Linked DNA regions of Homo sapiens: region 2 is linked to region 1. The links come from fine-mapping of genetic effects on plasma protein levels. Region 1 holds a variant in brackets. A gene starts in the other region. All regions are shown on their reverse strands.

Region 1 (5,377 bases):
TAAATAAAAATATTTTTGGTACATTTAGAGTACAAAAAAGCTTCTGGGCTATAACAAAAAGAACATTTCATGTCTTCAGAGTTTGAAAGTGGGAAAGACTAGCTATAAAAACCCAATAGGCAGCTCTGCTCATTAAGAAAATTGTGGGTTATAACCGTATAAGGTAAAGTTTTTATTTATTTCCAGTTAAGTTGCCATTTAGGGACACTTGTACGATTGCAAAATGCCTTCTGAGGATATAATCTATTTGATTTGTTACCATTTCTTTATAGGAATAGAGATAACATAAAGGAGTCTCCGAAGAGGTATTAGAGACTTTAGTACTGGCCAACCATTTAGCATGTTTCTAATTATCCTTTTTGTCTCCTCTGTACTTAGACCATTTAACTAATTTAGAATCCTCATTGAAACATCCTCTGCTACGAACCATTTGTGGAAAGACTTACTCTATACAATCCATTTTGTATTATATAATGAAAGGGCTGAGCAGAAGGGATTTGTTAGGCATAATTTATATCTACTGCACAGTCAAACCTTAATTATTTAGTGGCTACCTGTCCTGTTTGGGGATTATACAAGCATTTGGCCTTTACTTTGTCTCACTGTGGCTATTTAGCTATTTCACTAATCACTGATACATCTGCCAAGAGTAGTTTGGAGATAGAGGAAAGCAGGGGATCATGTTGTCCATCATTTTGCTATTTATTAGAGGATTTAATAAAATCTTTGAGGAAAGAGGGGACTTAAGTGCCTGTGTAAAGTGACTGTCAGTGGATTTTAATGTTTCCGTTAGCTGTATTAGTCTATATATTAGTCTCTCTCTCCCAAGGACAATTAAAAGTTGTCTGTATATGTTTTTAAAACCTTAAAATACGGATAAGAACATGGTTATGCATATTAGCATTTTAAATATATTATCCTACAAAAAAGTTATATCAAATTGCACTCCCATAAATGGTATGTGAGAGTGCCTTTCCCCTTTAAATTTCTCCAAACAACACTGTAGCCCAGTGCAATGGCTCACGCCTGTAGTGGCAACACTTTGGGAGGCCAGGAGTTTGAGACCAGTCTGGCCAACATAGGGAGACCAGTGTACACACACACACACACACACACACAAAAGAAATAGCTGAATGTGATGGTGTGTGCCTGTGGTCCCAGCTACTTGAGAGGCTGACGTGGGAGGATTGTTTGAGCCCAAGAGGCTGAGGCTGCAGTGAGCCATGATCACCCCACTGCGCTCCAGCCTGGGCAACAGAACAAGACTTTGTCTCACAAACAAAAACAAAAAAAACCAACACTGAATTTTTTTCCTCAACAGAGTAGGTGAAAAATTATCTTTAACTGTTGTGCATTTTATCTTTCAGATACATAAATGCCCAAAGACATTTTCATTTCAAGAAATAATAAAATCCACAGAGAAGTTTAAGGGGGAAGGTTAAAGGGAGAGGGATATTAAATAAGGAAAATTATTTTTAATATAATAAAATGTTTCCTTTAAATTGCATTTTATATTAAAACTTCTTTCAGAAGTAGAAAAATCAAATGAAGAATTTTAATTTCACATTACAAATATTTAATATTAACATATAACCTGATATTGCTATATTGTTACTTCAATATAAAATACCACTATGAGCTAATCCAGCAAAATCATTATGTAAACTAACTGGAAAATTAGATAAGGGGTAGCATCTCCTGTTATAAAATGAGTGAAAGGAATATATCAAAAGGAATATATTAAAAATTTACTTACTTTCATACTATGACCAGCATTTTCTCTTGCTATCCAAACCCCTTTTTGATTAATCATTTCCTTCTTATAATCATTTATAATAGAGAATATTTGGAAATGGTCAAAATCTTCAACAATGGGGGAGTATAATTAAATATTGTGCAGCCAAAATGGAAATTTCAAAGAAATGTTAATGGCAAGGAAAATACTCTGCAATGACATAATGAGTGAAAAAGTCAGAGAACAGAACTGAAAATTCCATGTGACTTCCATTTAGTACTCCCATCTCCCAAAGGTAGAGAGCAAGAGAAGAGAAGGGAGAGGAAGGGAGAGGAAAGAAAGAACATATATAAGTGTTAACAATAGTTATCTCTGGACTATGACATATGAGAATTTTAATTTTCTAAGCTTTATTTCTGATGTTTTTATTAACAAAATTTACGCTACATTCAATGTGTATTTTTAATGTCTGTATTCATGCACCTATCAGCATACACTACAGCAATTTCATCATGTCACATCTTCCATAAAAATGGGATTTCCTTGGGGAAGGGTCTTGTTTATTTGTATTTCCAGCACATAGTGCTTAACAAATCCTTCTTAAACGCAAAACCTCAAGAAACATTGAAAATAACCTCACAATACAATGAACTTCCAACTATCAGGGTACTCATCCCCTAGATTTTCCAAGTATTAACACTTGTCAGATTTATTATCTGTTTATCATTGCTGATGTCATGACACATCACCTCTCGAGAACAAAAATACTATTCTACATAAATATAATATTGTCACAAGCTATACAGTTAATACTATGTAATACTATTATGTTATGTTCAAATGTCCCCAATTGTCTAAATAATAGCATTGACATTTATAGCTTTTTAAAAAAAAATCCAGGGCAAAACAAGGACCAGACAGGCATTGCATTTAGATCATGAGTTTTTCTAGCTTTTATTCTAGGAGTGTTCTGTTTTTGTTCTTGTTACTTTTCTTTGACTTCCATGAGACTGACATTTTTGAAACATTTGGGCCAGGTGTTTGATAGAATGTCCCACAGTTTCAGTTTGTCTGATTGTTTCCTCATGATTAGAATCAGTTGAAATATTTTTGCCAAAAATATTACAATGATGATATAATGTCTTTCTCAAATGACATTACTGGGAAGTACATAATATCATTTTGTCCTATTTATATTCTTATTTTCCTTTAAAAAGTTCATTTATTTATTTTAATTGACAAATAAAAATTGTGTGGTTATGGTATACAACATGATGTTTTGGTATATGCATACATTGTGAAATGGAAAATTCAAGCTATTTAGCATATGAATTACCTCACATACTTATTTTCTTGTGGTGAGAACACAAAATTTACTCTCTTAGCAAATTTCTTATTTATTTATTTATTTATTTATTTTTGAGACGGAATCTTGCTCTGTTGCCCAAGCTGGAGTGCAGTGGTGC[A/G]ATCTCAGCTCACTGCAAACTCCACCTCCTGGGTTCAAGCAATTCTCCTGCCTCAGCCTCCCAAGTAGCTGGGATTACAGGCATGCACCACCATGCCTGGCTAATTTTTGTATTTTTAGTAGAGAGGGGTTTCACCATGTTGGCCAGGCTGGTCTCGAACTCCTGACCTCAAATGATCTGCCCACCTTGGCCTTCCAAAGGACTGGGATTACAGGTGTGAGCCACCGCTCCCGGCAACACATTTCAAATACACAATATATTGTTATTAACTGCAGTCACCATGATGTGCTATTTTTTATAGGTCTCTTGAATTTATTCCTCCTGTCTAACTGAAATTTTGTGTCCTTTGATCAACATCTCCCTAGTTCCCTTATTCCCAAGTCTGGTAATCACCATTTTACACCTTGTTCTGATGAGGTTTCACTTTTTCATATTTCACAGATGGAATCATATGGCATTTATCTTTCTGAACCTGAATTATTTCACCTAACTTATGTCCTCCAGGTTCATCCATGTTGTCACCAATGACATATATATTTTTTTCTAATATAAGTATTTCAAGTGCTATAATTCCTTTCGACTACCATCATAACTGTATTCTACAAATTTGCATAAGTAAATTCATTTTCATTCAGTCCTAAATATCAGCTTCCATTGTGGTTACCTTTTGAAATCATAAATTATATAGATATGTGTTTTGACATCTCAAACAAAAGTTTCCCCTTTGTTTTTATCACCCAGATCCTCTGATAATATTTCTGAGCCATTTGAGAATAAGTTGCAGATATTATACCATGTTATCTCTTAATATTTCAGTGTTTGTTTCGTGTATACAAGGACAATCTACTACAAAATCACACTAGGACAAGGAAATTAGCATTGTAAATTACCATCTAATCCATAGGCCCCTTTCAAATTTTACCAATCGTCCAGTGATGTCCATCAAAGGTCCTAGATCTAATCCAGGATCACATGACACATTTAGTTGACATGCTTTTTTAGATCCCTTCAGTCTGAAACATTTCCTGTCTTTCTCTTTCATGCTCTTGTTACTTTTGAAGAGTTACTTTGTAGAAAGTCCCCCAAATTGGTTTTGTCTGATTTCTCATGATTTGTGCATTTTTGACAGAAATACCACATAAATGATGTGGTCTCCTCAGTGCATCATATCAAGACCCACAAGGTATCAATTTGTCCTTTATCTGATGATGTTAACTTTGAAAACTTGGTTAAGATGGTGTCTTCCAGTTTTCTCTACTTGAAAATTGGTTAAATATGTTGTCATTATTAATTAATAAGTAATTAACAAAACACTTTGAGGCTATGTGAATATCCTATTCCTCATGATACTTCACTGATATGATTTGGCTATGTCCCCACCCAAATCTCATCTTGAATTGTAGCTCCTATAATCTCCATGTGTTGCAGGAGGGACCTGGTGGGAGGTAATTAAGCCATGGGGGCAGTTTTTCCTGTGCTGTTCTCATGATAGTGAATAAGTCTCATGAGATCTGATAGTTTTATAAAGGGGAGTTCTCCTGTGCATAGTCTTTTACCTGCCACCATGTAAGACATGCCTTTGCTCCTCCTTTGCTTTCCACCATGATTGTCAGGCCTCCCCAGCCATGTGGAACTGTGTGTCAATTAAACCTCTTTCCTTTATAAATTACCCAGTCTTGGGTATGTCTTTATTAGCAGCATGAGAACAGACTAATACATTCACCCATCAGTTTTAGCATTTTTTTTATTATTCTTGCCTGAAGATGGACTGTGACATTCGACAACACTGTTGAGATTATGCTTTGTGCCAGTGAACCTAATTACTTAGTTAACATCATTATAGATTCATGGCTTTCTACTTTACTCAAAGAGTCTTCATCCATTACCATCATTATTTATTTGTTGGTTTGTTTTGGACCTCACTTCCTGGTGCCATCTCTTCTAGTTTCCTCTTCTGCCTCAAGCACATCTCCACTATTCTAGCTGTTGGAGAGCAGCATGAGGCCTCTGTGCTTAAGAGGCTGAAGCCTGCCAGAGCTGCTTGAGGACAGCTGTGGTTTGTCCTTTTAGGGTTATCTGTCCTACCCTGTCATACACCAGCTACTCAGGGAAACTGAAGTCAGATTTCACCTCCTTTATTTTGCTGCTCGAATTGTCTGACCCTTGGCCAGTGAAG
Region 2 (5,377 bases), not on the chromosome of region 1:
GGGCTGGGGCTGCCGGATGGGGGGAGAGACAATGGTTGGCCTGTCCACTGCGCAGCCCCTGCTGGGAGCCTCAGGACTGCGGCATCCGCAGGGACCCCCTCCAGTTGCGCAGGCAGAGCCTCTTCCACGCCCCCCAACAGTAGGCTCCAGGAGGCAGATGACCCAGGCAGGGGGAGGGCCTGGTGGCTTTCATCGCCTTCCCCCACCCCAGCCACACCCAGGAGCAGCGGGGAGGAAGTCGGGAAAATCCTGCAGGGGCCTGGCAAAGTGCCCTGGCCGCTGTGGAGGAGACTGGGCCGGCGGGGGAGCCCAGCTGTAGCCCGCACCGGCCAGTCTGAAAGAAGCTGCCACCTTCTCCACCTCCGTGGAGGGAAATGAGTGGATTTCTGGTCCCAGGAGATGGTTTTGGGGGTACACGGGCGCCGGCTCTGGGTCCCCCGAGCCCCTACTAGGAGAAGATGGTGGGGGTCCCAGCGTACCTACCCCGGGGGCTCCCAGAAGCACCTGAAGGAGAAACCAGGGAAACTTCCCCTCCCCGGGGTGGGGAGCCCCGGTTCCCGCAGGAGCGCGATGGGGCACCGGCCCTGCCCCCAAGCACACGAGGCCCGGTGACGGCCCCGCCCACCTCTCTGCTCCTGCACGCCCCCCCCCCGCACCACTGCGGCACCCCCCACCTGGCTCCCGGGGTTGGGAGCTCAGGCTGTGCGCCCCTTTTTCTCTCCTGACCAACCCCTCTCGCCCCGGGAAAGGCCTCTGGGGAGGGGAACAAGCGGATCCCAGGCCCAGCCCCCGCTCCCCGCCCGGGCAAAGGCCCCCCCTCCCCAGGCCCCTCTCCTTCTCGGCCGGTAGGGAGGGCGCGCGGCAGCCGCAGTCCGTGGGCGAGGTGCACTTGTCTCCGCGAGGAGGGAGGCGGCGGCGGGCGGAGGACGGCGGCGGCGCAGCAACTTTCCCCGGCGCCCGCGAGTTTCCCGGGACCCGGCGACCCCCCCTCCCGGGGCTTGGCGGTCGCCAAGGGAGCCGGAGCGGGGGCTGCGGAGCGACCGGGGCTGGTTCCCACGGCCTGGGGCGGGGGTCCCGGCGGGGCGGCAGGCGTCGCGAGGGGAGGCCGGGGTCCGGGTGGGCGCACCTTGCAGGAGTACGTGTGCTGCACCGGGTCCACGTTGAGGATCTCCTCCACCGTCCCGGTGAGCACCACGTTCGCCTCCTCCTCGCGCCGCTCCAGCGCGCGCTCCGGGCATGTCCCGCCGGCTCCGGGCAGGACGCACGCGGCCACCACAAGGAGCGGCAGCAGCGGCCGCAGCGGGCCCGGGTGGGACCGGCCGGCCATGGCGCAGGCGAGAGGCGGCGGAGGAGCGCGCGGGCCGCGCCGGGGACGGGACTGGACAGGACGGGACGCAGCTCCGGAGGCGGCGGAGCGCGGGCGGGCGGGCGGGGGGGGGCGGGGCCAGGGCGGCGCCCCTCCCCCTCTCTCCTCCCCGCCCCCCTACCCCCTCCCCGCGCCCTCCTCCTCCCCCTCCTCCTTCCTTCCCCCTCCCGCCCCCTCCCTCCTCCCTCCCCCGGCCCGCCCGGAGGCCGGCGACCCGCGCCGCCGCGAACAAAGCCCCGGGACGCAGCGCCCGGCGCGGCCGTGGGGCGGGAAAGGGGCGGCCCGGGAGGGGGCGGGGAGAGGAGAGTGGGGGGCGGGTCTGGATCCCGCAGGCGCCCCTCCCCCGCCGCGGCCCCCCGGAAGTGCGGCTGCACCCGAGTTAATGCCTAATCTGGAGGAGACGTGACGGGACTGCCGAGGGGCTCCGGGCGGCGCGGAGCCGGGCGGCAGGGCTCGAAGGCCGCCGGGAGGGGCCCCAGACCCGGCCCCGATCCCGCTCCGCAGGCCGCGCCCCTCCCCCGCGGGGCCGGACACCGAGGCTCGGCCGGGCCGGACCCCCCGGGAGCTGCGGCGCGGAGGCGGGTCCCGGTGCCGGGGCGGGCGCTGATTGGCCAGCACGGGGCGCGGCCCCGCCCCTCCCGGCCCCGCCCCCCCAGGCCCCGCCGCGGGGAGGTTCGCGCCCCCTTCCGTCCCGCGGCTGCAAGCGCGGGTCCCGCCACGCCCCTTCCCAGCTCTGGGCCGGGCGCCTCTGCAGCTTGGCCTGGCTGGGTGCAGGGGGAAACTGAGGGCTGGAGGACCCAAGTGGGAGCCTGGCCTAGCTGAAGATTGAAAGGAGGGAGCGGAGGCCCCCTTTGTCCCTTCAGAACTGTGTCTAGGCTGGGCGTGGTGACTCACGCCTGTCATCCCAGCACTCTGGGAGGCGGAGGCAGCAAGATCTCTTGACACCGGGTGTTCGAGACTAGCCTGGGCAAAATAGCAAGACCCCATCTCTCAAAAAAATTAAAAATTAGCTGGATGGGCCGGGCGCAGTGGCTCACGCCTGTAATCCCAGCACTTTGGGAGGCTGAGGCAGGTGGATCACGGGAGGTCAGGAGTTCGAGACCAGCCTGGCCAACATGGTGAAACCCCGTCTCTACTAAAAATACAAAAATTGGCCGGTGTGGTGGCAGGCGCCTGTAGTCCTAGCTACTTGGGAGGCTGAGGCAGGAGAATCGCTTGAACCCAGGAGGCGGAGGTTGCAGTGAGCTGAGATGGTGCTGAGAGGTGACAGCGTGCTGGCAGTCCTCACAGCCCTCTCTCGGTCTTCACGCCTCCTCTGCCTGGGCTCCCACTTTGGTGGCACTTGAGGAGCCCTTCAGCCCACCGCTGCACTGTGGGAGCCCCTTTCTGGGCTGGCCAAGGCGGGAGCCGGCTCCCTCAGCTTGCAGGGAGGTGTGGAGGGAGAGGCATGAGCGGGAACCGGGGCTGCGCGCGGCTCTTGCGGGCCAGCTGGAGTTCCGAGTGGGCGTGGGCTTGGTGGGCCCCGCACTTGGAGCAGCCGGCCGGCCCTGCCGGCCCGGAGCAATGAGGGGCTTAGCACCCGGGCCAGCGGCTGCGGAGGGTGTAGTGGGTCCCCCAGCAGTGCCAGCCCACTGGCGCTGCACTCGATTACTCGCCAGGCCTTAGCTGCCTTCCGGCGGGGCAGAGCTGGGGACCTGCAGCCCACCATGCCTGAGCCTCCCACCCCCTCCGTGGGCTCCTGTGCGGCCCAAGCCTCCCCGATGAGCGCTGCCCCCTGCTCCACCGTGCCTAGTCCCATGACCACCCAAGGGCTGAGGAGTGCGGGTGCACAGCGCAGGACTGGCAGGCAGCTCCACTTGCAGCCCCAGTGCGGGATCCACTGGGTGAAGCCAGCTGGGCTCCTGAGTGGTGGAGACGTGGAGAACCTTTATGTCTAGCTCAGGGATTGTAAATACACCAATCAGCACCCTGTGTCTAGCTCAGAGTCTGTGAATGCACCAATAGACAGACACTCTGTATCTAGCTACTCTGGTGGGGCCTTGGAGAACCTTTATGTCTAGCTCAGGGATTGTAAATACACCAATCGGCACTCTGTATCTAGCTCAAGGTTTGTAAATACACCAATCAGCACCCTGTGTCTAGCTCAGGGTTTGTGAATGCGCCAGTGGACACTCTGTATCTAGCTACTCTGGTGAGACCTTGGAGAACATTTATGTCTAGCTCAGGGATTGTAAATACACCAATCGGCACTCTGTATCTAGCTCAAGGTTTGTAAATACACCAATCAGCGCCCTGTGTCTAGCTCAGGGTTTGTGAATGTGCCAGTGGACTCTGTATCTAGCTACTCTGGTGGGGCCTTGGAGAACCTTTGTGTGGATACTCTGTATCTAACTAATCTGGTGGGGACGTGGAGAACCTTTGTGTCTAGCTCAGGGATTGTAAATGCACCAATCAGCGCCCTGTCAAAACAGACCACTAGGCTCTACCCATCAGCAGGATGTGGGTGGGGCCAGATAAGAGAATAAAAGCAGGCTGCCGGTGCTAGCAGTGGCAACCCGGTCAGGTCCCCTTCCACACAGTGGAGGCTTTGTTCTTTCGCTCTTTGCAATAAATCTTGCTACTGCTCACTTTTTGGGTTCACACTGCTTTTATGAGCTGTAACACTCACCGCCAAGGTCTGCAGCTTCACTCCTGAAACCAGCGAGACCACGAGCCCACCGGGAGGAACAAAAAATCCAGACGCGCTGCCTTAAGAGCTGTAACACTCGCCGCCAAGGTCTGCAGCTTCACTCCTGAGCCAGCGAGACCACGAACCCACCAGAAGGAAGAAACTCCGAACATATCCGAACATCAGAAGGAACGAACTGAAGACGCGCCGACTTAAGAGCTGTAACACTCACCGCGAGGGTCCGTGGCTTCATTCTTGAAGTCAGTGAGACCAAGAACCCACCAATTCTGGACACAGTGCAACTGCACTCCAGCCTGGGTGACAGAGCGAGACTGTTTCAAAAAAAAAAAATTAGTCGACGGGCCGGGCGTGGTGGCTCAGGCCTGTAATCCCAGCACTTTGGGAGGCCGAGGTGGGCGGATCACTTGAGGTCAGTAGTTCGAGACCAGCCTGGCCAACATGGTGAAACTCTGTCTCTACTATAAATACAGACAGGGCACGGTAACTCACGCTTGTGATCCCAGCACTTTGGGCAGCCAAGGGGGGAGTGGATCACAAGGTCAGGAGTTCGGGACCAGCCTGACCAACATGGTGAAACTGCCTCTACTAAAAAATTAGCCGGGTGACACGCACCTGTAATCCCAGCCAGTCAGGAGGCTGAGGCAGGAGAATCGCTTGAACTCAGGAGGTGGAGCTTGCAGTGAGCCGAGATCACACCACTGCACTCCAGCCTGGGCGACAGAGCGAAACTCCATCTCAAAGAAACACAAAACAAAACAAATACAAAATTAGCCAGGTGTGGTGACACGCACCTGTAATCCCAGCTCCTCGGGAGGCTGAGGCGGGAGGATCACTTGAGTGTGGGAGGTGGAGGCTGCGGTGAGCGGTGATTGTGCCACTGCACTCCAGCCTAGCTGAGAGTATGACCCTGGGAAAAGTAAGTAATTTTTTTAAAAAAAGGACTGGGTCAGTCAGGCCCAGTGGTTCACACCTGTAATCCCAGCATTTTGGGAGCCCGAGGCAGGCGGACCACTTGAGGCCAGGAGTTCAAGACCAGCCTGGCCAACATGATGAAACCCCATCTCTACTAAAAATACAAAAATTAGGCCGGGTGCGGGGGCTCACACTTGTAACCCTAGCACTTTGGAAGGCTGAAGCGGGCGGATCATGAGGTCAGGAATTCGAGACTAGCCTGGCCAATACAGTGAAACGCTGTCTCTACTAAAAACACAAAAAAAAGTTAGCTGGGTGAGGTGGCGGGCACCATTAATCCCAACTACTTGGGAGGCTGAGGCAGGAGAATTGCTTGAACCCGGGAGGTGGAGGTTGCAGTGAACCGAGAT

Which allele goes with the higher level. Alleles are on the strand shown, and positions count from the first base shown. The strength of an association depends on the size of the effect and on how common the allele is.
For the plasma level of the protein whose gene starts at base 1,380 in region 2, allele G in region 1 goes with a lower level than allele A (weak association).

Evidence for each region. A credible set is the group of variants that fine-mapping cannot tell apart. PIP is the chance, under the fine-mapping model, that this variant and not a neighbour inherited with it causes the effect. Protein levels are from antibody-based Olink assays in UK Biobank. Linkage for the fine-mapping came from a reference panel and not from the study's own genotypes, which makes the PIPs less certain.
Region 2: it holds the start of AGRN, and the variant in region 1 is the best candidate, but not a certain one, in a credible set for the plasma level of the AGRN protein (UK Biobank, PIP 0.86).

The regions. Positions count from the first base shown.
Region 1 is chr4:118,376,648-118,382,024 of GRCh38, reverse strand. No RefSeq gene overlaps it. Among named protein-coding and RNA genes, the nearest start is that of PRSS12, 26 kb to the right of the region's middle. The variant A/G (reference allele first, on the strand shown) is at 3,202.
Region 2 is chr1:1,016,123-1,021,499 of GRCh38, reverse strand. AGRN (agrin) reads right to left here and starts at 1,380. Exons shown (of 36, transcript NM_198576.4): 1 at 1,127-1,380. The coding sequence starts at 1,327. RefSeq lists an enhancer at 1-108 and a silencer at 1,617-2,066.